Regions from separate parts of the Homo sapiens genome. Here regions 2, 3, 4 and 5 are each linked to region 1. Evidence: fine-mapped expression QTL. A gene starts in region 1. Each other region holds a variant in brackets. All regions are shown on one strand. Distances are between the middles of the regions.

What was found.
Region 2: its variant is fine-mapped to the expression of SLC35A5 in fibroblasts (GTEx, PIP above 0.99). The same link has a PIP of 0.9 or more in esophagus mucosa, ileum, lung, pancreas, spleen and subcutaneous fat.
Region 3: its variant is fine-mapped to the expression of SLC35A5 in thyroid (GTEx, PIP 0.98).
Region 4: its variant is fine-mapped to the expression of SLC35A5 in sigmoid colon (GTEx, PIP 0.99).
Region 5: its variant is fine-mapped to the expression of SLC35A5 in tibial artery (GTEx, PIP 0.97). The same link has a PIP of 0.9 or more in esophagus muscle.

What each region holds. Positions count from the first base shown.
Region 1 is chr3:112,560,086-112,565,191 of GRCh38, forward strand. It overlaps SLC35A5 (solute carrier family 35 member A5), which reads left to right and starts at 1,960. Exons shown (of 7, transcript NM_017945.5): 1 at 1,960-2,188; 2 at 3,300-3,448. The coding sequence starts at 3,319. ATG3 (autophagy related 3) reads right to left here and starts at 1,877. Exons shown (of 12, transcript NM_022488.5): 1 at 1,372-1,877. The coding sequence starts at 1,443. RefSeq lists enhancers at 639-1,448, 1,449-2,258, 3,879-4,688, 4,689-5,106.
Region 2 is chr3:112,484,668-112,489,773 of GRCh38, forward strand. The region is part of intron 1 of BTLA (B and T lymphocyte associated); the gene reads right to left. Among named protein-coding and RNA genes, the nearest start is that of BTLA, 12 kb to the right of the region's middle. The variant A/C (reference allele first, on the strand shown) is at 2,910.
Region 3 is chr3:112,470,437-112,475,542 of GRCh38, forward strand. It overlaps BTLA (B and T lymphocyte associated), which reads right to left. Exons shown (of 5, transcript NM_181780.4): 3 at 776-919. Among named protein-coding and RNA genes, the nearest start is that of BTLA, 26 kb to the right of the region's middle. RefSeq lists an enhancer at 3,228-3,728. The variant G/T (reference allele first, on the strand shown) is at 1,916.
Region 4 is chr3:112,381,602-112,386,707 of GRCh38, forward strand. LOC105374041 (a long non-coding RNA gene) reads right to left here. Exons shown (of 4, transcript XR_924334.3): 2 at 305-335. Among named protein-coding and RNA genes, the nearest start is that of CD200, 51 kb to the left of the region's middle. The variant T/C (reference allele first, on the strand shown) is at 2,692.
Region 5 is chr3:112,600,545-112,605,650 of GRCh38, forward strand. CCDC80 (coiled-coil domain containing 80) reads right to left here. Exons shown (of 8, transcript NM_199511.3): 8 at 1-5,106. The coding sequence ends at 4,873. Among named protein-coding and RNA genes, the nearest start is that of CCDC80, 38 kb to the right of the region's middle. RefSeq lists an enhancer at 3,344-3,513. The variant A/G (reference allele first, on the strand shown) is at 3,140.

The sequences.
Region 1 (5,106 bases):
GCAAGTATGATGGACTCCTGAAAACATAATTCTACATCATACATTTTATATTTCATTTGGGCAGTCTCTTGCTCCTCTCTCCCGGAAACTAAAAAGTTGTACAATGGTGTATTATTAAAATACTGTATACCTAGGTAGATATGATATTCTGAAAAGTTAACATAATTATGTAAAAGCATTTGATTCAAATGTGAAAATTATTTTCCAATCTTAGTTTGACTGAATAATCTTAAAATGACTTTCACAGTAAACAAATGTAAGCAAAGCAACAGTTGAAATTCTCATTTATAATCGCTGGTTTATTTCTTACTTGGCCAATAAGTTATTCTTTTAAAAGGAGCTTTACAAAAACGTATTTTAAAAAGTATAGACCTAGTACTTCCCTTTGTCATGGAAAGGGAGCAAAGCAAAACTCTCCACTATTCTTAGCATATTAAGGTATTTCACCCCCACACTGAGATTGGTACATTCTAACTGAAAGCTTAAAAACAACTAGAAAAAAAAAACAAAAACTAAGCAAGAACTTCCCATTAATTTACTATTCTTGCTCACTTTTCAGAAAGCAAAAATGAAGTTACAACAAAACACTCCAAAAGAGTTATAAAAGAAAAGCTTGAAGGCAGTTGTAGAAATTTACCTTTAAAAAAAAAATCAGTCACTACTGTAACAGCTAATGTGTCACAATTTTTTACTTTAAAAATGCTGTACTGTTGCCAATATATTTTTAAAAATTATACAGCCAGGAAGGTCAAACCGTGCCTTGTTATCACTAATAACCAGCTACGGCTATCTGAAAAGCTTGGGAAAAAGGTTTTGCTCGTTAGATGGGTTCAAGGTTACTGAATGAGATAATGTTGCCAATTTCACCTCCTTCCTCTGAAATCTAAACGAGTTGGGATCGCAGTCACAACTTCCCCACTACAGCGGACTTTCATGAAACTTAAAGGAAAAGTGACCTCACCTCAGGTCTCTTTTGACCTCTGTGTGTCAAACACTAAATTCATTTTTTAAAGAGAAGCAAAATCCTTGCTTAAAAAGGCTAAAAGACTTCCAGTGTTTGGATTTAACGTTCTTCAATCTACTCAGCCTCCGAACACCCTTCCAACCCGACGTACCCGACCGCGCAGAGTTATGACGGGAGAAGGCAGGAACACGCAGAGCGTCGCTCCAAGTTTACCCCTGAGGAGTCAGAAAGCCCTAACGAACAGCCGGTTAAGACTACGGGTGGGGGCTGCACACTTCCCTGTGTCTCGAGCCCTACTGCCTTCCTACACCTTGCCCCGCCGGAGAAAGCGGGGACTCCTGCGGCGCCTGGTCCCTGAAAAGTCGAGCATGTGCCTGACAGCTCCCGGCAACCCTGGCCTGGCTTACCTTGAGGACCGGGGTCAGGTACTCAGCCACTTCCAGTGCCTTTCCCTTCACAGTATTAATCACATTCTGCATCCTGGGGCCGGAGTAGCGGCCGGCCCCGCGACGGGATGGAAAGTGCAGCCGTGTCAGGGGCCAGGGAGTCAGAAAATGTCCTCGCTGCCACCGACTCGCATCAGCACCCGGCTGGCAGCACCCGAGGGGACGGGACGCGACGCGACGGGACGGGCGGGACGAGGGGGCGGGGCGGCAGGCACAGCGCGCGAAGACGGGGTGCGCGATCCTCGCACCCCAGGCAGCCCGCGACGGACCGGACCCAGCTGTCACCCAGCCGCGAGGGAGGGCAGCGGGGCCGAAGGGAGACCTGAGGTGAGAAGCGGACGCACACGCACCCCTCGCCCTCTGCGAGCTGTCTGTCCTCGCTTTGCTTCACTCGCGCCCCTTCCGGCTTCCCTTCCTTCTCACTCTCTTGCCGTAGCTGCGCCGCCACCGGGGCCTCACGTGACACTAGACTCTCCCGGCACGTGACGTGAGAAAGGGGCCGGGCTGGGGCGGGATAAGCCGCTTCTCCCCTCCTTCCGGAAGCGTAACACTGAACGTGCCTGCGCAATGGGTGTCGGGTCCGCTTTTTCCCAATCCGGACGTAATCGTGGTTTTTGTTCTGCAATAGGCGGCTTAGAGGGAGGGGCTTTTTCGCCTATACCTACTGTAGCTTCTCCACGTATGGACCCTAAAGGCTACTGCTGCTACTACGGGGCTAGACAGTTACTGTCTCAGCTCTAGGATGTGCGTTCTTCCACTAGAAGCTCTTCTGAGGGAGGTAACCGCGCCCCGCGGGCAAGGAATTGCGCCTGCGTCTGAGGGGAGGGTGCGCCAGTGAAGAGCCCTACTGCGCATGTGTGACTAGAAGGGTAGTCCCTGACTGTGAAGGGAAATCTGGCCCCCTCCTGTCGGGGAGGCGTCCTGTAGGCGTGCGCCCAATGGGGCTGTCAGTATTGGCATTTCTCCCCACTCCCCGCAGGCTCTATGCGCTATTCCTACAGTACGCTGGGAGGCTTTGGGCAAGTTACTTACCCAACCTGGGGTTTAGTGTCCTCAGCCTATCAAAAGAGGGCCTTAGATTCATTGATTTCTACGATCTCCTCCATTTCAAACACTAACTAGTTCAGTAAAACTTTACAGCAGTGTTTCAGATATTTCCATTTTGGTCGTTATTGTAATGAAGTCTGTCCTAATAAGCTTTTTCCTCCGAGGGAAAAGAGGAGGAAAATACAATTCTGAAAGCCTTATCTTACAGCAAAATTATTTACTAATAAGAGTAAAAGCGAGGCCGGGCGCGGTGGCTCACGCCTGTAATCCCAGCACTTTGGGAGGCAGAGGCGGGCGGATCACAGTCAGGAGTTCGAGACCAGCCTGGCCAACATAGTGAAACCCCGTCTCTACTAAAAATACAAAAATTAGCCGGGCGTGGTGGCGGGCGCTTGTAGTCCCAGCTATTCTGGAGGCTGACGCAGGAGAATCGCTTGAGTCCGGTAGGTAGGGGTTGCAGTGAGCCAAGACCGCGCCGTTGCACTCCAGCCTGGGTGACAGAGCGAGACTCCGTCTCAAAATACATAAATAAATAAAATTTAAAAATAAAATTCAAAATTGCTTTGAAGAATTCTTTTCTGCTGTTGCAAAGTGTCATTTGCTCACCTGCTACCTTTGTCAGCAGGTCTAATCTGGTTCTACGTTTTCTGTCTCCAGAGTACTCCCTCTTATCAGATTTTCACTTTCCTTTTGTCATAGTTTCTTTATGCCTCAACTTTCTTGGTGCTGATATAGTCATAGCCAAAATTTTTTAAAAATTCCTTTTTTGTCCTCACGATCAATGGTATTTGCGTTTAGGGTCTGCCAACAAGGTCGTTCATGAAAGTGTTTTTCTCTTTAAGGTAATTAAAAAACAGTGGAATGGAAAAACAGTGCTGTAGTCATCCTGTAATATGCTCCTTGTCAACAATGTATACATTCCTGCTAGGTGCCATATTCATTGCTTTAAGCTCAAGTCGCATCTTACTAGTGAAGTATTCTGCCAATGAAGGTAAGTTAAGACTTGGTATATGCATGGAGCACTTCCATCTAATCACACATCTCTCTCTTGCCTTTGGTTCTGTTATATATAACATGGAAATAATAATGCCTTTTGCTTCATGTGAGTGATAAAGCATATTTAAATTTGATTATTTAACCTTGCATTCCTCAACAAGAAAAAATGTTTGATAATGGATGAAATGTGAGTCAATCAGATACAAAAATCAAACCCTTTGGTGAAGAACCAGTCGTAACATTTGACTGTTAATTCAATCAACAGGTGTTTCTGGACCTATAGCAAAATGTGTAATTGCGCCTTATTTTGAAGTAGAAGGATATATTTGTTTGGTCACTTGGCATTTGTGAGGTACTTACTATTGTAATTATTGTATCAATGGTAAGGTGTCAGCATTATATTGTGCGGTCATATTGTATCAACAGTATAAATTATAAGCTTTGATAAGTATGTATTTAAGAAATCTTTTTTTATGTAGGGATTTAAGCAAACACTTTAATTCCACAAAACTGTATTGAGTACTTCTTACTAGTTATTGAGTGAAGGGGTGGGTTGCCCCTCCACATCTGTGGGTGTTTCTCGTTAGGTGGAACGAGAGACTTGGAAAAGAAAGGGACATAGACAAAGTATAGAGAAAGAAAAAAGGGGGCCCAGGGGACCGGCGCTCAGCACACGGAGGATCTCTGCCAGCCTCTGAGTTCCATTAGTATTTATTGATCATTATTGGGTGTTTCTCGGAGAGTGGGATGTGGCAGGATCATAGGATAGTAGTGGAGAGAGGGTCAACAGGTAAACACGTGAACAAAGGTCTCTGCATCATAAACAAGGTAAAGAATTAAGTGCTTTGCTTTAGATATGTATACACATAAACATTTCAATGCCTTAAAGAGCAGTATTGTTGCCCGCATGTCCCACCTCCAGCCCTAAGGCGGTTTTCCCCTATCTCAGTAGATGGAATATACAATCGGGTTTTACTCCGAGACATTCCATTGCCCAGGGACGAGCAGGAGACAGATGCCTTCCTCTTGTCTCAACTGCAAAGAGGCGTTCCTTCCTCTTTTACTAATCCTCCTCAGCACAGACCCTTTACAGGTGTCGGGCTGGGGGACGGTCAGGTCTTTCCCTTCCCACGAGGCCATATTTCAGACTATCACATGGGGAGAAACCTTGGACAATACCTGGCTTTCCTAGGCAGAGGTCGCTGCGGCTTTCCACAGTGTTTTGTGTCCCTGCGTACTTGAGATTAGGGAGTGGTGATGACTCTTAACGAGCATGCTGCCTTCAAGCATTTGTTTAACAAAGCACATCTTGCACAGCCCTTAATCCATTTAACCCTGAGTTGACACAGCACCTGTTTCAGGGAGCACAGGGTTGGGGGTAAGGTTACAGATTGCAGAACAAAATGGAGTCTCCTATGTCTACTTCTTTCTACACAGACACAGTAACAATCTGATCTCTCTTTTCCCCACAATTGAGGACACATACAATCATGATATGACCTTTAATGGTCTACTACTTGGAGAGTCAGATGTGTACCCAAGTCTCTACTGCAGTTAACATTTACCTGCCAGGCACTAGGCTAAGTATTAGCAGCAGGTTCAAAGTGCATAAGATATAGACCTTGTCCTCAAGACTTAGTTTATTAGGAGAGA
Region 2 (5,106 bases), 75 kb before region 1:
TTCAAGTTCTGTCTTTTGTGACTGTATGCTCCGGAGCAGTGCGCAAAGTGGGTTAGGGGTGGAGAAAAGAGCTAGCTTTTTGTGTTGGTGGCATCACTGATTCACAATAGGATTATGGAAACATTGCAGTTCCTAAATATTCTTATCAGCAGGATAATGATCATTGACAACCACACTGACTGGCACAGGAATTTTTCTTGAATGGAGGAATGAACCGATGATGAATGTAGGCTTGCAAGCAGGCATTAGAAATCAAGAGTACTCCCTCTGTGCACAAACAAGGTATTATAATACCTCCTATCTCTCAGAGGCTAACACTGATGTTTGTAGTGTAAAAATGACACACTGAGACAAATAGCACAATTCTATTTTTTTTAATTAATTTATTTTTTTTGAGATGAAGTCTCGCTCTTGTTGCCCAGGCTGGAGTACAGTGATGCAATTTCGGCTCACTGCAGCCTCCGCCTCCCAGGTTCAAGCGATTCTCCTGCCTCAGCCTCCCCGGTGGCTGGGATTACAGGCACCCACAACCACGCCCGGCTAATTTTTGTATTTTTAGTAGGGACGGGGTTTCGCCATGTTAGCCAGGCTGATCTCGAACTCCTGACCTCAGGTGATCCACCCGCCTCTGCCTCACAAAGTGCTGGGATTACAGGAGTGAGCCACCGGCCTGGCCGACAAATAGCACAATTCTAATTGTCCATCTGACAAGCTTGTTAACACCCCTTTTCTGCCTGTTCTGAATTATGCATATCCATCTTATGATACTTAGGACACACAAAGCTATCCCCCAAAAGTTTGTCTTATCAAATAAATATTTCCCGAAGAGGAATAACTATCACAGTTGCTTTTGGCTGTTACTCAACTTCCAATTATCAGTTATTTGATTTCATTTTTTATTTATGTATTTTTTGAGACGGAGTTTTGCTCTTGTTGCCCAGGCTGGAGTGCAATGGAGCGATCTCGGTTCACTGCAACCTCCATCCCCGGGTTCAAGCGATTCTCCTGCCTCAGCCTCCCAAGTAGCCGGAACCATCAGTTATTTTTATTCCTGCTCTTATTATCTCTGCTGTTTTTCTCAAGCATTCATATCTGATGACAGGAAATTTTCAATGCTAAAAATGATTAAAATAAATACATGCAGTAAAAGAATAAAAACTTCTGGCCGGGCACGGTGGCTCACGCCTGTGGTCCCAGCACTTTGGGAGGCCGAGGCGAGTGGATCACGAGGTCAGGAGATAGAGACCATCCCGGCTAACACGGTGAAACCCCGTCTCTACTAAAAATACAAAACAAAAAATTAGCCGGGCGTGGTGGCGGGAGCCTGTAGTCCCAGCTGCTCGGCAGACTGAGGCAGGAGAATGGCGTGAACCCGCGAGGCGGAGCTTCCAATGAGCCTAGATCGCGCCACTGCACTCCAGCCTGGGTGACAGAGCGAGAGTCCATCTCAAAAAACAAACCAACAAACAAAGAATAAAAACTTCTACTCCCCCCCAGGCTCTTATATAATGAAATATCCCTTGTTAAGTCACTATAGGTTTAGAAATTCTTTCATGTTTAAAATTTTTATCAAAACCACTAGTGGTATATATATTCCACGATCAGGTGGTACCGATGATATTTTATTTTAGGTCTAGAGTACATCATTTGAGCAACCCCTTTCTCTATACATAAAAATATTTTCAGAAATAATCATGAGATAAAACAAGTAATAAAATGGCCAGAAAAGAAATATAGACAATGAATATTTTCTTGTGCTGAACTTCATGTATAAAACCATACAAATGAAAAAATGTTTTAAAAAAATTAAAATACAAAAAAAGAAAAATGCACAGGTATTTATTCAATCATTTTTATATCCACCTAAACAGTATGAACTTTGATTCTTTAGTTATAGTCTGATATAATAGTTTATGTAAATAGTTGTCCAATAACTAATAAATGGATTGTATTAAAACTGAAATTCTGCAAAGATACAATTTAGGTAACTACTAAATTGTAACACTAAAGTTTTATTTTCTAAAGTTAGTTTTAAAACAACATTAAAAAAATTTCAATTGTAAAAATATTAATCAATCTAACATTTTATGCATGAAATAAAGTTGCCAAGCCGAAGATTTTATATATCACAGTTTGTATCCTTTTCACTGTTTTAAATTTTAAACACAAATAAAAATTCAAGAAGTTTGCACCAAATGACAAAAATGAAACAGCTCCTGTTCTGCTTCTTTGTCTCAGCATTCTCTGTGGTATTATTGTTTATTTAAAATTGAATGTTGAAAGGCTGGAGTATGTAGTACCACAGAGATGAGGACACAAAGTGTCCTTGGAGGAAACTGGAGTGATCCTGGACTTTATAAATTTGCTATCAAAATGAACACAAGTAGCTGAATGGTATATGTCCAAGGCCAGCTGTATAACTGGGAAGTTCTCTGAGTTAACTTGCAAGTAGAATGCAATGTTTGTCAAATGATATATACTACAAATGTGCTAATTTGAAGTTTACATATATATCATAAAACTCAACAGTAACCATAGTATTTAGAACTTAGACCAAAAATATTTTGAAGGGTAAATATTTCACCTCTGACATTGTTCATGTTTGCTAGTATGTGGTGATAATTAAAAGGAAACCGGCCGGGCGTGGTGACTCATGCCTGTAATCCCAGCACTTTGGGAGGCCAGGGCGGGCGGATCACCAGAGGTCGGGAGTTTGAGACCAGCCTAACCAACATGGAGAAACCCTGTCTCTATTAAAAAATACAAAATTAGCTGGGTATGGTGGCGCATGCCTGTAATCCCAGCTACTCAGGAGGCTGAGGCAGGAGAATAGCTTGAACCCAGGAGGCGGAGGTTGCGGTGAGCTGAGATCGTGCCATTGCACTCCAGCCTGGGCAACAAGAGCGAAA[A/C]TCTGTGTCAAAAAAAAAAAAAGGAAATCAACTTTTAGTTGTTTTTAAATTCAATACAGACAATGGAGCCACTTGTTCACACCCAGGAGTCTGGATATCCCACTGTCCTTGACACATTAGTAACGAGACAGTTTCTAGCACAAAGAAGAGGCTGAAAGTCTTACACCACTTTTCAATTTTGCCATTAGATTTTTGTTGTATTATTTTGGATATGATATAATCTCTCAGAGCTTTCAGATCCCTCAAGAGGAAGACAGTCTTTCTGGCTGGGTCAATCAGGAAAGGCTTCATGGGGGAAGATAAATCTCTTTCTTCCTCCAAGCCAACCCCCAGGCAAATTTGGTCCTCCTCTCATTATCACAGTATAATACCATCATCTACCTAATCACATTAGCCAGAACCTGGGGAGCCATCTTAGTCTCCTTCCTTGTCACCGTCCCATTCCATCAGCCATGAAGTTCAATTGATTCAGGATGGAAAATGTCTTCCATATTTGTTTCCATGACACTGCCTTAATTTGGATCTCATTCTGTTTCATGTGGATTATTGTCACAGCGTACCAAATGGTCTTCTACATTCCAAACTTGGCCTTGTTTCCCTCCCTCCACCTCAATTCTCCACATCACTGTCACAGTTTCCGTTTTCTTTTTTCTTTTTTTTTTTTTTTTTGAGACAGAGTCTCGCTCTGTCGCCCAGGCTGGAGTGCAGTGGCGCAATCTCCGCTCACTGCAAGCCTCCCGGGTTCACGCCATTCTCCTGCCTCAGCCTCCTGAGTAGCTGGGACTATAGGTGCCCACCACCACGCCCGGCTAATTTTTTGTATTTTTAGTAGAGACGGGGTTTTACCCGGTTAACCAGGATGGTCTCGATCTCCTGACCTCGTGATCCGCCCGCCTCGGGCTCCCAAAGTGCTGGGATTACAGGCGTGAGCCACCGCACTGGGCCTAGCCCAGTAAGTTTATGCAAACTTACCATACCCTCATATCCCCACTCCCTAGCAAATGTCTGATGCTATTTTGTGTGAGATGCATCACTCCTTTTTTGTTGTTGTTGTTGAGACGGAGTCTCGCTCTGTCACCCAGGCTGGAGTGCAGTGGCGCGATCTTAGCTCACTGCAACCTCCACCCACCGGGTTCAAGCAATTCTGCTGCCTCAGCCTCTGGAGCAGCTGGGAATACAGGCACCTGCCACTGCGCCCGGGGAATTTTTATATTTTTAGTAGAGATGGGGATTCACCATGTTGGCCAGGCTGGTCTTGAACTCCTGACCTTGTGATCCACCCGCCTTGGCCTCCCAAAGTGCTAGTATTACAGGCATGAGCCACCGCACCCAGCCGACATGCATCACTCTTTATAACTACATATGTGTTCATGTTTCTGTCTTCTATCTAGTCTGCTACTTCCTTGATGGTGTGTTACCTTTCTATGTAGTACTGGTTGCACAGCAGAGACAGCTAAGCCCTTAGAGAGGTGGGCTAAAAGGCACTGAGGTGAAGAACATATGCAGCTCAACATACCTTACAGTGGTTAAGTTATAACTACCAAAGAAAAGCTAGACTTTACAAGTATTCAGTTTGAAAAGGCCTGATTTATGTCCACTCAGGGGTGGATATTAAAAATATTTAACAAGTGACACTCCATGGCCATCCAGCTACACAGATCAGCTGATCAGAAAGGAGTGCCAGCCACAAACAACTGTATAGTCTCGTAACTCCCAGCTGAGCAAGTGTAGTTGCTGAGCTGAAGAGAGTAGGTAATTTTTGAAACCAATCAGCCATTTAAAAAAAAAGAGGGTTATGATTATGAATATTTTATAAAATATCATTATTTCTTATTTTTAAATACCATATGTTTTGATTATAACCATTATCATGAGGAAAATCTCACCTGAGTTTCACTATGTCTCCATTGAAAAATTCTTACAAATTTATGGAAACTTCAAAGTGGTTGCAACCATTCAAATAAATGAATGACTGTAATGAATGCAGATTGCCTTAACTTGAGCTAAGAAAGTGTCAGAGTTTAACATAGAAATTAAACAAATGATTTTTTGAGAAACTAAAATGATTACTAACGGTATAATAAACCAATAATTTTCTGTGACATCAACCAGGATTTTAGCTTCTATCAGAAAATACTATCACAGACAAACAACAAGCAAACCAAAACTTCAGACGCATGCTGGGGAGGCTACAGAA
Region 3 (5,106 bases), 90 kb before region 1:
GTTTCTATAGCTACACTGTAGCTGGTGTTGTGAAAACAGGAATGTGAGAGGATGGAGGAGAAGAAAAAGGAAAGAGAAAACTGAAGTAGTTCAGGCCAAAGCTAGATCAGAATTCTCTATGCTTTCCTCTCTTACTTAACATATTTGGTCATGACATTGAGAGAGTTCTTGCAAAAGTAGAAAGGAATTATTTTCAAAATATCACACCATTCCCATCATAGCCAAACCCACATTTTTCATATGCATTATTGTTGGGTAAGAATTCAGGTCAAGCATATGTTTATAATGGCAATAGAAAATACAGACATATTAATTTTCTCTGGGGACATTGGTTCTTCAGTTACATAAGGGTGTGTGTGGGATTGGCATGATGTGGTGTGGCTGTGAAAAGAGGATAATACAAAATAAAGCAGATATCTTGATCTGAGAGATTGTTTCAACTTCCAATCCTGTTAAGGTTTAGAAGAGCTCTTTCTCACACAAACCTAAGATTGATGCAAAGAGAATGATGAAGTCTCAGCAATGTGCTATGCTCGCCACAACTCTAGCTGGAATACTGTGCGTGGTGAGCATGCCTCTCCCGTGACTCAAGGGAGCCCCAACCAACCTATTTAGCTTTTTAGCGCAAATATGAGTTGTCTTCTAGGAAATCATTATCCATGGTTTACAGGATTGGGAAAGAAAACAACAGGAAGAAACTAAAAATCCTTTAGCCCCAGAAATAAGAATGGCCCCAAATGTGTGGTACTGGGGGCAGAGGGAAAATAGAACCCACCTTGGTGCCTTCTCAGGCAGCAGAACAGGCAGAAACAGGTAGTGATGAGTAGAGGCAATCCCCCCAAAGGAAGTAAACGATACAGGAGCCAGGGTCTGCTTGCCATTTCGTCCTTGGAGGGTCGTTCTGAGGCACTTTTTACATCTGGAATGTTAGTAAATGCTAAAGAGAGTTAGGAAATCTGAGATATATTGGGATCAGCGGCACCCCTCTGCATTGTCAGAACTTGAGTGAAGGAGATTTCAGGCCAATGCCTCCATTTCCCCTTCAGAGGCATTCCTCAAGAATCCCAGTGCCCTCAGCCACCTCTTGCTTTCTTGCTGAGCAGACGTGGCTCTGCGATAATTTATCTTTTGCAGAAATTCTTTATTCTGATAGAGTTAATCTTCCACAGAACAATCTTCATGATAACTGTCAGAAGGTACTTCATTAAGCCTTTCTATTTACAGTATCTAACTCTCATATTCATCACTTAAGTAGGAAAACCATTGTCTTTATTTTGTCCCAAGAGTTGCTCCAAGTCAGATAGCTAGTGAGTGGCAATGGGAACTCAAGCCAACATGTTTGTAACAGGAAATTCAAGTTTCTTCAACACAATGTCCTTTCCTTGTCTCGTAACTTATCAGAATCTCCAAATATCAAATACTTTTGATAGCCTTAAAAGTGCTCTGCATGGCACACAGCTAATGCGCATTACTATTGATCAATGTTAATACGCATTGAGGCCCTGTTTGTCTGCAGTTGTTCACAGCTCATTAGCAGGTTGTGAAACAATTTAGTATGTCACAAATAGCATTTTAAAAAATGAAACAGAAGAGGATAGAAATCATCAGAATGCATCACACACACTAGAGCAGTGGTTCTCAAGCAGGGAACATGTGTGGCAATGTCTGGAGACATTTTTGGCTGTAACAAGGTAGGGGGAGGGAGGCTGGCAACCAGTGAGTAGAAGCCGGGGATTCTGCTAAACACCCTACACTATACAGGATGCAACCCCCACTTAGTGCAACAAAACATTATCCAGACCAAAGTGTCAATGGAGAAACTCTGTCTTATGGTTAAGTATGACCTTATGAAACTTTTTTATATTTGTGTGCATTATGGGTTGTGATGTAAGATCTGGTTGTTGTTGTTGTTGTT[G/T]TTTTTTTTAATTTTGGGTTACAGTTAACACAGTATGAAAAATACTGGAGTAAGATATTCTAAGGTCTGGCCTGGTGGCTCACACCTGTAATCTCAGCACTTTGGGAGGCCGAGGTAGGCGGATCACTTGAGATCAGGAGTTCGAGACCAGCATGGCCAAAATGGTGAAACCCCGTCTCTACTAAAAATACAAAAATTAGCTGGGCGTGGTATGCACCTGTAATCCCAGGTACATGGGAGGCTGAGACAGGAGAATCGCTTGAACTCGGTAGGTGGAGACTTCGGTGAACCGAGATGGTACCACTGCACTCAGCCTGGGTGACAGAGTAAGACTCCATCTCAAACAAAAAAAAAATTCTATTAATTATATTATAATGTTATTTTGTTTGGCTAGATGCTTAGGTTTGGGGTAAAAATGATTAGAGGCAACTGAAGTTGCACAAAAAGTGGTTTGGTTATTCAGAGTGGTAACAAATGTTGTCTATTGATGTTGCAGCTGCTGTTTAGGTTAGCGAGCAGCCAAACCACTGCCAGGAGTGCCAGAAACAGCTGCCTGGGGGAGGGTCTTGGATAGCAATGGGGACTAAGGTTTCTACAACAGATACCCTAATACAAACAGATCTGCTGGATCAAGAAGATCCAACTTCTGTTATTTCTTTAACCACCAAAAAAACCTAATTTCCTTAATTTTACTTGATTAGTTTGATCAAATAAAACTAATTCAGAACAAACTGTTTCTCTATTTCAGAACAAACTCAAAACTCCCCCTAACTTATTTTGAGTTTGTTCTGAAATAGAGAAACAAGGTAAATAACTGAAATTGATTGAGAAAATGATGAGGGTGTACTCTCACGTGTCCAAAACCAGAGCTAGCCTTGGGGAGGATTCCAGTGTTTGCACACTACCAGAGAATCCAACAATCTATCTCAAGATCAGTAAGCACAATTTGTGGAACATCAACCCCACGATCATTGACACAAAGTAAATATCTGGGCTTATTTTGAAGCTCACTGAAAGACTGTAAATACAACGCAATCTTTGTCTGTCTGCTTTGATCACCTCTTCCCCATTCCTTAAGCATAAGGACACAGTATAGTCTGCACAATGATATCTCTGGCACCTGGAATAAGAAGAGGCACATTCAGCAGGTGCTCCAAATCAGGGTGGAAGCCCACAAGGACTTCCTGCCCTCTCACTCCACACCCACTTTCCTGCCACAGATAATGATCACATTTTGGGGAAGTTCTTTTTTTCTTCTTCTTTTTTTTTTTTTTTTTTTTTGAGATGGAGTCTCGCTCTATCACCCAGGCTGGAGTGCAGTGGTGCAATCTCGGTTCACTGCAGCCTCCACCTCCTGGGTTCAAGTGATTCTCCTGCTTCAGCCTCCTGAGTAGTTGGGATTACAGGCGCCTCCCACCGTGCCCAGTTTATTTTTTGTATTTTTAGTAGAGATAGGGTTTCACCATGTTGACCAGGCTGATCTCAAACTCCTGACCTCAAGTGATTTGTTCGTCTTGGCCTCCCAAAGTGCTAGGATTACAGATGTGAGCCACCACGCCCAGCCTTGGGGAAGTTCTTAATCTGAAACTGACCAAGGGAAGTTTGGGAAGGGTGAAGTGGCAGGCCAATGGATGTTTCAAGGGCTGTTCCCCAGCTCTGTCAACTTTTCCCCTAGGACTTTGGCTTGTTGTGCAAGGTGCTTTTCTTCATTCTGGGAGAATAGTGCTTTCCCAAGAGCATCCAAGCCCCAACTCTGTCACAGTCCTGTTCTTACATGAACTTTTAACTTGAACATAAACAGCAAAAGAAAGTCACTTATAAAAACAAGAAAATGTCCAAAATCACTTCGGAAATATATTTCACAGGAAAAAATAAAATATTTTTTATCAGACCTCCAAAATTTCTTTATGAAAAGCATGGTCCTTAAACATATTTCCAAAATATATTTTTCTCCTCACCTTATACTTAGTTCACTGAGCACTTTCAGGTTCAGAAGGAAAAGGAATTTTTCTTTGACCCTCCCTGTTATTTTTGTTTTCACCACTTCACTAAAGAAAAATGCACACCTAGATTAAATTAGTTTTAAATCCACACAGAGTTTAAATTAAAGTTAATTCCTAAACAATTTACCTTTTGTGAAGGAAGTTAAAAGAAAAAAAAAAAAGAAATATTACACAAATTCCAGCCTTCCAGGACATTATAATCTTTCATGGGACCTAAAAGACATTTCCACACATTACTACAGTGAAAGGAAATGATAAATGAGAGGCACAGACTTAAATGGCATAAAAATTGGTAAAAAGGAGTGATCCCTTCCCCTCAGGTGATCATGAAAAGCTTCCTTAAGAACTTGGAAAATTAGCTGAGATTGAAAGGAGGGGTAGAATTTCCATAGGTGGAGACAGATGAATGGGTGCTCTACAAGTGGCAAGAGCAGCATACACAGGGCAATGATGGAGATGTGGTTATGGCAAGTAAGGCCGTCAGGCTGCAATTGAGAGGCTGTATATGGAATCCAGAAACAATCTAGAAAGGTGGTGGGATCAAACTGTGGAAGACTTTGAATGCTGGTTAACAAAGATGAGCCCAATATTGTGACCACTGGGGATGCTATGCAAGAGAGTGTTGTTATGAAGGAAGTGTATGAGGTAATTTAAGTGTATTTGGCTGAAATTGACCAAAATGGGGAAATACTAAAGACAAAGAGTCCAATCATAGAATTAATTGGAATTATTTAGAAGGAAGATAATGATGGTGCGAGATGCTTATAGAAGCAATTGGAGGAAACACATCACAGAGTGGAATGTTGTGGAGAGACAAGAGTAGGAAGCCAAAGAAAATTCTCTGGGATTTTCCATGAGGATCAAGAGCATTAATTAACAAACTGATAAGGAAGGGAGTGATAGGAAGGATAGGTGAGTAGGAAACTAAGAGAGTAGAAATGTTCAAAAAGAAACTGACAAGGCCCTTCATGTCTCCTATTTAGCTCTTAGACTTTCTCTTTCACCACTTCATACTTCACATACTTTGTTCCATAAAACCCCCCAAGGCACAGGATTTAGGAGGGAATGTTATTCCCTTTCCCCTAAAGTTGGGTTCTTTCCTCCACAAAATAGATAGATTGTTGATCCTAATCTCAGCCCCAACTTGATCCCTAGAACAGGCACCTTTATGCACTTTACAAACTACAG
Region 4 (5,106 bases), 180 kb before region 1:
GGATGCCCAGGCAGAAGTTTGCTGCAGGGGCAGGGCACTCATGGAGAACCTCTGCTAGGGCAGTGCAGAAGGGAAATGTGGGGTCAGAGCCCCACACAGAGTCCCTACTGGGCCACCACCTAGTGGAGTTGTGAGAAGAGAGCCATTGTCCTCCAGACCCCAGAATGATAGATCCACCAATAGCTTGCACCGTTTGCCTAGAAAAGCCACAGACACACAATGCCAGCCTGTGAAAGTAGCTGGGAGGGAGGGTGTACCCTGCAAAGCCACAGGGGTGGAGCTGCCCAAGATCATGGGAACCCACCTTTTTCATCAGCGTGACCTCGATGTGAGACCTGGAATCAAAGGAGATCATTTTAGAGATTTAAAATCTGACTGCCCCAATGGATTTTGGACTTGCATGGGCCCTGTAACCCCTTTATTTTGTACAATTTATCTCATTTGGAACAGCTGTATTTACCCCATACCTTCCATTGTATCTAGGAAGTAACTGGTTTGCTTTTGATTTTGTAGGCTCATAGATGGAAGGAGCTTGCCTTGTCTCAGATGAGACTTTAGACTGTGGACTTTTGGGTAATGTTGAAATGAGTTAAGACTTTGGGGAACTGTTGGAACGCATGATTTGTTTTGAAATGTGAGGGCATAAGATTTGGAGGGGCCAAGGGCAGAATGATATGGTTTGGCTCTGTGTCCCGACCCAAATTTCATCTTGAATTGTACTCCCATAATTCCCATGTGTTGTGGGAGGGACCCAGTGAGAGATAATTTGAATCACTGGGGTAGTTTTCCCCACACTGTTCTCATGATAGTGAATAAGTCTCACGAGATCTGATGGTTTTATCGGGGGTTTCTGCTTTTGCATCTTCCTCATTTTCTCTTGCCACTGCCATTTAAGAAGTACCTTTAGCCTCTGCCATGATTCTGAGGCCTCCCCAGCCATGTGAAACTGTTAAGTCCAATTAAACCTCTTTTTATTCCCAGTCTCAGGTATGTCTTTATCAGCAGCGTGAAAACAGACTCATACACTCGGCCAGAGGACTGCCCACTGCTTCCCGTAGACTGGCTATGATGCTTGGTTTGCCAAGACCCCACCACATCTTATCTTGTCCACAGGGTGTTACACTCATCTCGGTTACCTCCCTGACCTCTCATAGAGCTTGAATCTGCAACTGCTGAACTAAGTAAATTAACACATATCTAGATTTCAGGTGCCCCTTCTTCCTCTCCAGAGTGCTTTCTCTGAGACCAACTCTACCGTTTCCCAGAGTCAGAAGATCCCCTCTCATGGCTCTACACACTACTTACTGCCTGTCTTCTTCTTTAATTTGTCTGTTCCCCTTCCCAGCACATGCACGCATCTTGAGTGCGGAAACAGTTTTGGTGTTCTTTGTAACCACAGCACAATCCACATGATGAATACTCCTGGCAGGCAGATTAAATCTTACCCAAATTAGTATGTGCTTTACTTGGTATTTTCTGTGAAATTACTTCCAGAAAGTTCTTTAGTTTGTCACTTCTTTGGCTATAGTTAGGCAGCCAACAGCAGGACAATTCTACAGAAATGAAATATTTTTTCTAAAATCCAAGAAAGATGATAAATGAGATTGATTAAATTTCAGAAGAAAAGTGGTAAAGCACTATTTGTATAAACCAAATTCTGTACGTGTCTTAGCCTAAGAAATAACCACCTGGAACACAATTTATATCTTCATAGCACATTTTCTCTGTATACACAAGTCCTACTCCATCTTGAAGCAAGGTTTAATTGTCCTCTCCTTTTGAAGGATGTTCTCAGATTTTCTAGGCTAAGATCCAACAGCACTTTGACAGATTTCTATTGTAATGCTTTATTTGGTAAGTATTTATGTATTTGTTTTCCCCAGTGGCCTGTGGTACAGAATCTACATTATTCTTTAAATTTGAAATAACCATCAGAACTAGGCTGAGAGAAGGTGCTCAATGTATGTTTGTAGAATAAAGTTGCTTCAAAATTGGTATCATGAGATGAACTTAATTGTTTCTATTTGAAACAATATAAAAAACAGCAGTGTTACCAGTAGAAGGTATCCAGGTTCTTGGCATCTGGAACAAAGAATTGGACAAAACACACAAACAAAGCGAGGAAAGCAAGGGCAGGGATTTATTGAGAATGAAAATACACTCCACAGTGTGGGAGCGGGCCGAGCATAGGGGCTCAAGAGCCCCACTTACAGAATATTCTGGGGTTTCAATACTCTAGAGGTTTCCCATTGGTTACTTGGCATATATTCTATGTAAATGAAGAGAATGAAGTGAAGTCACAGAGTCATTTACTCAGTATGTGCCATATTGTAAATAGAGAGGATGTTACCTGATGCGTGTGATCTAGGTAAATGGAGAGGATGAATGTGAAGTTACAAAGTGTAAATCATGTGAATGGAGAGGATGAAGTGACTACATGTCTGCAGTCTGAACTACTTGGGAGACTGAAGTGAAAGGATCTCTTGAGCCCAGGAGGTCCAGGATGCAGTGAGCCATGATTGCACCAATGCATTCCAGCCTGGGTGACAGAGCAAGACCCTGTCTCATACAAAATAATAATATGATAAATAAATTACCAGTGTGCATAACATGCAATAAGGGCAAGTATTCATTAATAAAATGCTCACAAATATGTACTTTGGATTATGCCATAAAAGGTATTTCTCCCCA[T/C]GGGTTATGTGAAAGTGCAAAAAACATTGATTTAAAATGTGACTGAGTTATTAATGTCTGTACAACTCAGCAGACAGTTCAGTATATATTTCAGTAACTTTTTTGTTAAAAATAAAGTTCGAGACCAGTCTTGCCAAATGACAAAACCCCGTCTCTACTAGAAAATACAAAAACTAGCCGGGCTTGGTGATGCACACCTGTAATCCCAGGTACTCCAGCTACTCCGGTGGCTGAGGCACGAGAATTGCTTGAACCCAGGAGGCGGAGGTTGCAGTGAGCTGAGATGGAGCCACTACATGGCAGCCTGGGTAGCAAAGCAAGACTCCATCTCAGAAAAAAAAAAAAAAAAAAAAAAAAGACAAGACATCTCCCTTCTTCTTTGTAGCAGAGCTGAGAGCTGGCATACAAACTCAGAGGGTTCAGGTTCCAACACTCAAGCTTTTTTCTTTCTTTTTTAAATATCTTGCTGGCAGAAAACTGCTTTCCTCTAAGCTGCCATTCAGGGCCCAGTGAAAAATGACCCTGAAAAATCCACCATCAAAGATTAAGAGAGAGCCCTCAAACTTTGCATGCTCCTGACAAGATCCCTCCTCCCTCATCTCTCAAAAACACCAGCTTTGTCACCATTATCTAATATGTCTTTATCCATATTTACATCAGTCATTGCAAGAAACCAAGGACTGATTCTTAGGAAATTGCTCATTCCTCCTTACACTCATTTTGATAAGGCTCTGTTAATTCCTGTTTTTGATCAGTCCTCAACCACTGAACTCCTCCAACTCTGTTCCCTGGAACTCCAATAATCAGCAAACTTCTCTGTGGCCTCAAGTTTTTTCCTAAAAGTTCCCTTCCACCTCTTCTTGCACTAACTGAACTTGGTGCCCCTGGAGGACAGTATCCCCTGCAGCCCCCTGCAGTGGTTTTGCCTTTCTTGTATCACTGGATGCAGACATATGCATGGGGGGAAGGGATGTCCTTTTTGTCCCCCATTGCCACTTCTAGGCTGCTGTCTTTTCTGACTCCATAAAAGGACTTGCTTGAATCTCAAATAATCAGATATTTTACCTTCTCCTTCCCTTTGTTATAGTCATTCATCTTCCCCAGATCACCCCTGCCTCCCACATTTCTTGAAGATTTTAGTTCCTGGTTAACAGTCAGCCTCCAAAACTACTTCTGTGATAAAATTATTCGCTATATATCAATGTGTACACACATGATCCTTTTAATTCCCAGGCTTTTTCCCCTCTACCAACCCAGTCCTCATCCTACATCTGGCACTTGCCTCACTCCTATAATCATATCCTAATCTTTTTCTTACAGAAACTAATACCCCTTTGTTACCTCATTTACACACTTCCCATTGCCATAAGAAAATTTCCTATTTTTCCTGTTCGCTTCCTCTCTGGCTTTCCTTTATGTATGCCTTTCTTTATTCTTTTTCTTTCATCTGTGGTTTTCAACTAAGGGCAATGTTGATGTCCACCCCTCCAGCAGGTATTTAGAGATGTCTGAAGACATTTTTGGTTATCACACCAAGAGGGTGTTACTGGCATCTAACAGGTAAAGGCCAAAGATGCTGGTGACATCTCCCAATATACAGGACAGACCTCCTGAATTTTCCAGTACAAAACATAATTCAGTGCAAAGAATTATTCAGTGCAACAGGTCAATAATGCCAAGGTTGATAAACTGCTTAACATTACCAGGATCTACAGTCCATTGATTTTAACATGGCGTTAGAGATCAAACTGCTTCCTCCAAAAAACATATGTTGAAGTCCAAACCCTGGGTTCCTCAGAATGTGACCTGATTTGGAGACAGGTCATCGCAGATGTAATTAAGTTAAGATGGTATTATGCTGGAGTAGGGTGCTATCCAATATGACTGACATCCTTATAAAAAGGATGCCATGTGAAGACACAGAGGCACAAGAAGAACTTCGTGTGAAGATGGAGGACTAGAGCGATGCATATACAAACCAAGGAACACCAAAGATTGCCTGCGGACCACCAGAAGCTAGGAAGAGGCAAGGAAGGATCCTCTTCTAAAGATTTCAAGAGAGCATGGTGCTGCTGACACCTTGATTTCAGACTTCTATATTACAGACCTACAAGACAATAAACAACCTTGTTCATGGTACTTTGTTACAGCAGCCACAGGAAGCTCATACAACTGGTTTCTCTGAACTTTGCTTGAATTTACGTTCTCACTTCCAGCCTTGCCCAGCTTAAATAATAAGACCAGAATACTAGCTATTAATAATGGAATCGTGTTTGCTAAGCCATAGAATATAAAATCTTACACTACTGTGTTTATTCTAATTAGGAAGCAAAGAGATTCAAATCTGGTTGTGCGTATTCATCTATCCAATCAAGTGATAAAATGTTATAGGCAGTTATGACAGAATTTGTCTCA
Region 5 (5,106 bases), 40 kb after region 1:
ATGATGGAGTGCTGTGGCACGATCACGGCACACTGAAGCCTCGACCTCCTAGGCTCAAGCGATTCTCTCACTTCAGCCTCCTGAATAGCTGGGACCACAGACACACACCACCTTACCCAGCTAATTTTTTGTATTTTTTTGTAGAGACAGGGTTTTGCCGTGTTGCCCAGGCTGGTCTCGAAGTCCTGGGCTCAAGCGACCCGCTCACCTTGGCCTCCCAAAGTGCTGGGATTACAGGTGTGAGCCCCTCACTGCTCCTGGCTCCCTCATTATTATATTTCCTGAAGTTGACATGATTTGGGTCCTTTACTTAGAAATTGTCATCACACAATTTCAGAAAGGTAAAGAAATCCATTTTTATTGGCAACTTTGGGCTATGCTTCATCCTGGCAAAAATTTAAAAGCAGTACACTTCGACGTGGCTCACTTTCCTGCACACCTCAGGCAGCTTGTACAGACTATCCAAGAAAAAATGAGGAGGAAAGTGCTCCATCAAGGAAGAGGGATGAGATGGGAGCATAATTCACACACTAAGAACTGAGTTCTAAAGTCACTTGAGCTTTCTGGAGCTCAGTTACCTGTAAAACAAGGAAGAATGAATGGTCTTTATGGAAAATGAATGGCAGAATAAGTGATTTGTCAAGTTCATTGAACTATAAATTCCATTTTTACTGTCATTTATTTATAACAAAGTTCAGATATAAAGAAAAATCTGAACATACAGTAGGCACAGATAAACCTATAGCAAATATTCACATGTGGTTTGAATGCATTTATTAATCTCTGTACTTATTAGAATTAATAATAATACTAAAATGATTTGGAGAATTAATGATTAATAACAGTGGAAAATAGCCTTCCCATTATTGTTAGAGGATGGTGCCATCATGATGCTAAATGCCTATCTGAGGGGAAGCTCATAAATATTACTTGACAATATTACTTGATAAATATTTGTTGAAAAAAGAAATGTAGTAAAGAAGCAAGGATGGCTGGGCATGGTGGAGCATGGCTGTGGTCCCAGCTAACTTGGGATGCTGAGGTGGGAGGATTGTTTGAGGGAAGCTGAGTTTGCAGTGAGCCAAGATTGCACTACTGCACTGCAGCCTGGGTGACAGAGTGAGACCCTCTCCAAAAAAAGAAAAAAAAAAAGAGAAAAAAAAGAAGCAGCAGCAACGAAAGGAGGGAGGAAGGGAGAAAGTTTACTTTGATATGCCATATGATTGAAACAAATGCTCTTTTTTCAAAGACAAGGATTATACTCCTTTGCATTCCAGCTACTTTGGTCCATTGTAACTTGGTAACCTTTGCCTTGAAAACAAAAAGAATCCCTGGATATAATCTCCTTCCTTGTAATTTTTTTTATAAGATGCCAGTATGGTAATAGGTCCATTAGCAAGTAAGTACAGGCACATCTTATTTTATTATACTTCTCAGATACTGCATTTTTTACAAATTGAAGGTTTGTGGCAACCCTGCATCAAGGAAGTCTGTTGACATCATTTTTGCAATAGTATGTACTCACTTTATGTCTCTGTGTCACATTTTGGTAATTCTTGCCATATTTCACACTGTTTCATTATTATCTCTGTTATTAAAATCTGTAGTCAACGATCTTTGATGTTGCTATTATAATTACTGGGGGCACCATGAACCACACTTATATAACACAGTAAACTTAATAAATGTGTGTATGTTCTGATTGCTCCAACAACCAACCTTTCTCCAATCTTTCTCCTTCTTCTCAGGCCTCCTTAGTCCCTGAGACACAATATTGAAAGTAGATCAATTAATAACCCTAAAATAGCCTCCAGGTATTTCAAGTGAGAGGAAGTTGCAATCTTTCACTTTAAATCAAAAGCTAGAAATGAATAAGCTTAGTGAGGAAGGTGTGTCAAAAGCTGAGACAGGCTGAAAGCTAAGCCTCTTATGCCAAACAACCAAGTTGTAAATGCAAAGGAAAAGTTCTTGAAGGAAATTAAAAGTGCTACTTTGTGAATGCATGAATGATAAAAAAGTAAAACAGCCTTACTGCTGATATGGAGAAACTTTGAGTCATCTGAATAGAAGATCAAGCCAGCCACAAAATTCCCTTAAGCCAAAGCCTAGTTCAGAGCAAGGCCCTAACTCTCTTCAATTCTATGAAAGCTAAAGGGAGGTGAGGAAGCTTCAGAAAAAAAGTTTGAAGGTAGCAGAGTCTGGTTCATGAGTTTGAAGAAAAGAAGCCTTGTGCATCCATAAAAGTGCAAAGTAAAGCAGCAAATGTTGATGTAGAAGCTGCAGTAAGTTATCCAGAAGATCTAGTTAAGATAATTAATGAAAGTGGCTACACTAAACAATAGATTTTCAAAAGAGATGAAACAGCCTTATATTGGAAGAAGATGCCATCTCAGACTTACGTATCTAGAGAGGAGTAGTCAATGCCTCACTTCAAAGCTTCAACCAACAGGCTTACTCCTTGTTAGAAGTTAACGCAGCTGGTGATTTTAAGTTGAAATCAATGCTCATTTACCATTTCCCCAAATCCTACGACTTTTCAGAATTATGCTAAATCTAATCTGCCTGTGCTCTATAAATGGAGCAACAAAGCCTGAATGACAGCATGTCTATGGACAGCATGGTTTACTGGACATTTTAAGCTCACTTTTTGAGTCTTACTGCTCAGAAAAAAAAAGAATCTTTTAAAAATATTGCTGTTCGGGCCGGGCGCAGTGGCTCATGCCTGTAATCCCAGCACTTTGGGAGGCCGAGGCCAAAGTCAGTAGTTCGAGACCACCCTGACTAACATGGTGAAACCCCATCTCTACTAAAAATACAAAAATAAGCTGGGTGTAGTGGTGGGCGCCTGTAAATCCAGCTACTCAGGGGTCTGAGGCAGGAGAATCACTTGAACCCCGGAGGCAGAGGTTGCAGTGAGCCAAGATCGCACCACTGCACTCCAGCCTGGGTGACAGAGCGAGACTCCATCTCGAAAAAAATATATATATATATAATATATATTATATATTTTATATATGTATATAAAATATATATATAAATGATCAGTTCCAGACCACTATAATATATATATATATAGCTGTTCACTGACAATATACCCAGTCACCCAAGAACTTGGATAGAGATATACAAGGAGATTAAT[A/G]TTTTCGTGCCTGCTAACACAATACCTATTGTGCAGCACAGGAATCAAGGAGTCATTTGCACTTTTCGTAAGACTATAACTGTCACAGATTGTGATCCCGCTAATGGATCTGGGCAAAGCAAATTAAAAACCTGGAAAGGATTCACCATTCTAGATGCTGTTAAGAACATCGTGATTCATGGGAGAAGGTCAAAATAGGAAGATCAATGAGTTCGGAAACTGATTCCATCCCTCATGGATGATTTTAAGAGGCCCAAGACTTCATTGGAGGAAGCTCTGCTATAGACATAGTGGAAATAGCAAGAGAACTGGAATTAGAAGTGGAGCCTGAAGATGTGACTGAATTGCTGCAATCTCATTACAAAAGTTTAATAGATGAAGACTTGCTTCTTATGAATGAACGAAGAAAGTGATTTCTTGAGATGGAATCTACTCGCGTAAGTTGCTATGTACATTATTGAAATGACAACAAAGGATTTACAACATTACATAAATTTCATTAATAAAGCAGCAACAGGGTTTGAGAGGATTGGCTCCAATTTCAAAAGAAGTTGTACTACTGGTAAAATGCTATCATACAGCATCACATGCTGCAGAGAAATCTTTCATGAAGAAAAAGTCAATCGAAGTGGCAAACTTCATTGCTGTCTTATTTTAAGAAATTGCCACCATCACCCCCAACCTTCAGTAACCACCACCCTGATCATTCAGCAGCCATCAACATCAATGCAAAAAGATTATGATCATTAGCAATTTTTAGCAATAAAGTATTTTTAAAATAAAACATGTACATTTTTTGGACATAAAGCTATTATACACTTAATAGACTACTAAAGAGTGTAAACATAACTTTTATATGCACTGAGAAACCAAAAATTTTGTGTGACTCACTTTATTGCGATATCCACTTTATTATGGTGGTCTGGAACTGATCCTGTAATATCTCCATGGTATGCCTGTGCTGTACAGGGGGTAAAGTGTGAGGGGTCAAGAATTTTCATGCCAGAAATTCCATAGCAGCCTACTAGAACTCTGGAAGTATCGCCTTTGGCTGCAGTGCCAGATTCTGGTGAGGATTTCCTGGACCCCGATTTATATCTGAAAAAACACTAAAAATAACAGAAGCAGGGCAGGAAGTGGCTATGATAACAAAGCTGGGCTTGGTACTTTCTCTGGCTTTTGTGGCCAATATTACTGGACTCCCGTGGTATCAAGTTTCATAAAAGAAACTCATACAAAGCAGAGATATCTTAATTATTTTCAGACTGGCATTTCAAAAAGTGTCAATTTAAGTAAGTATTATAAGTTATTTGTTCTTTGTTTTATCTTTTCAGATGTTTCTTGAAAACATTGTGGTGTGATCTTTAACAGAGTTTTCACTTACCAATTAATACAAAAAATAAGAAAAAGCTTTAAATACATATTTTATAAAATTTTATATGCCAAATAAGGTCCTTCATATAAGAAAAGGAAAATAATATCAATTTTCAGTACTATTATTTAGCACTAGAGCCCCTCCAGTTAGAAAAACAATTCTTTTAAATGTCTTTATGATTTGAGGTTTCAATAATAACTCATGAATAGGTGAAAGTTTGCTATTTATTTAGTCTTAGAAAAACACTGAAAGAAAAAGGCAGGAAATGTAGTACGCAGTGTGGAAGAATGGAGCTGGCCACATGTAGTTTTAGCAGCTGCAGAGGAAACTGGCTGAGTCTAAGGTTACATATTTCTGCTCAGTAAGGGTATCCATGGTGATAACTCTCATGATGACGGTAGTCATCCTGGTAACCATCCTGGTATCCTTGGTGGTAACTATGGTAACCATAGCCTGCATACTCATCTTCTGGGCAGCGCATCCCCAGTGACTGCTGAATCGCCATTTCCTGTCTCCGAAGTTGCATCGAATCAATTAAATCGTACACAATCACCATGGACCACATTGGGGAAGGATACCAGGATTTGACATT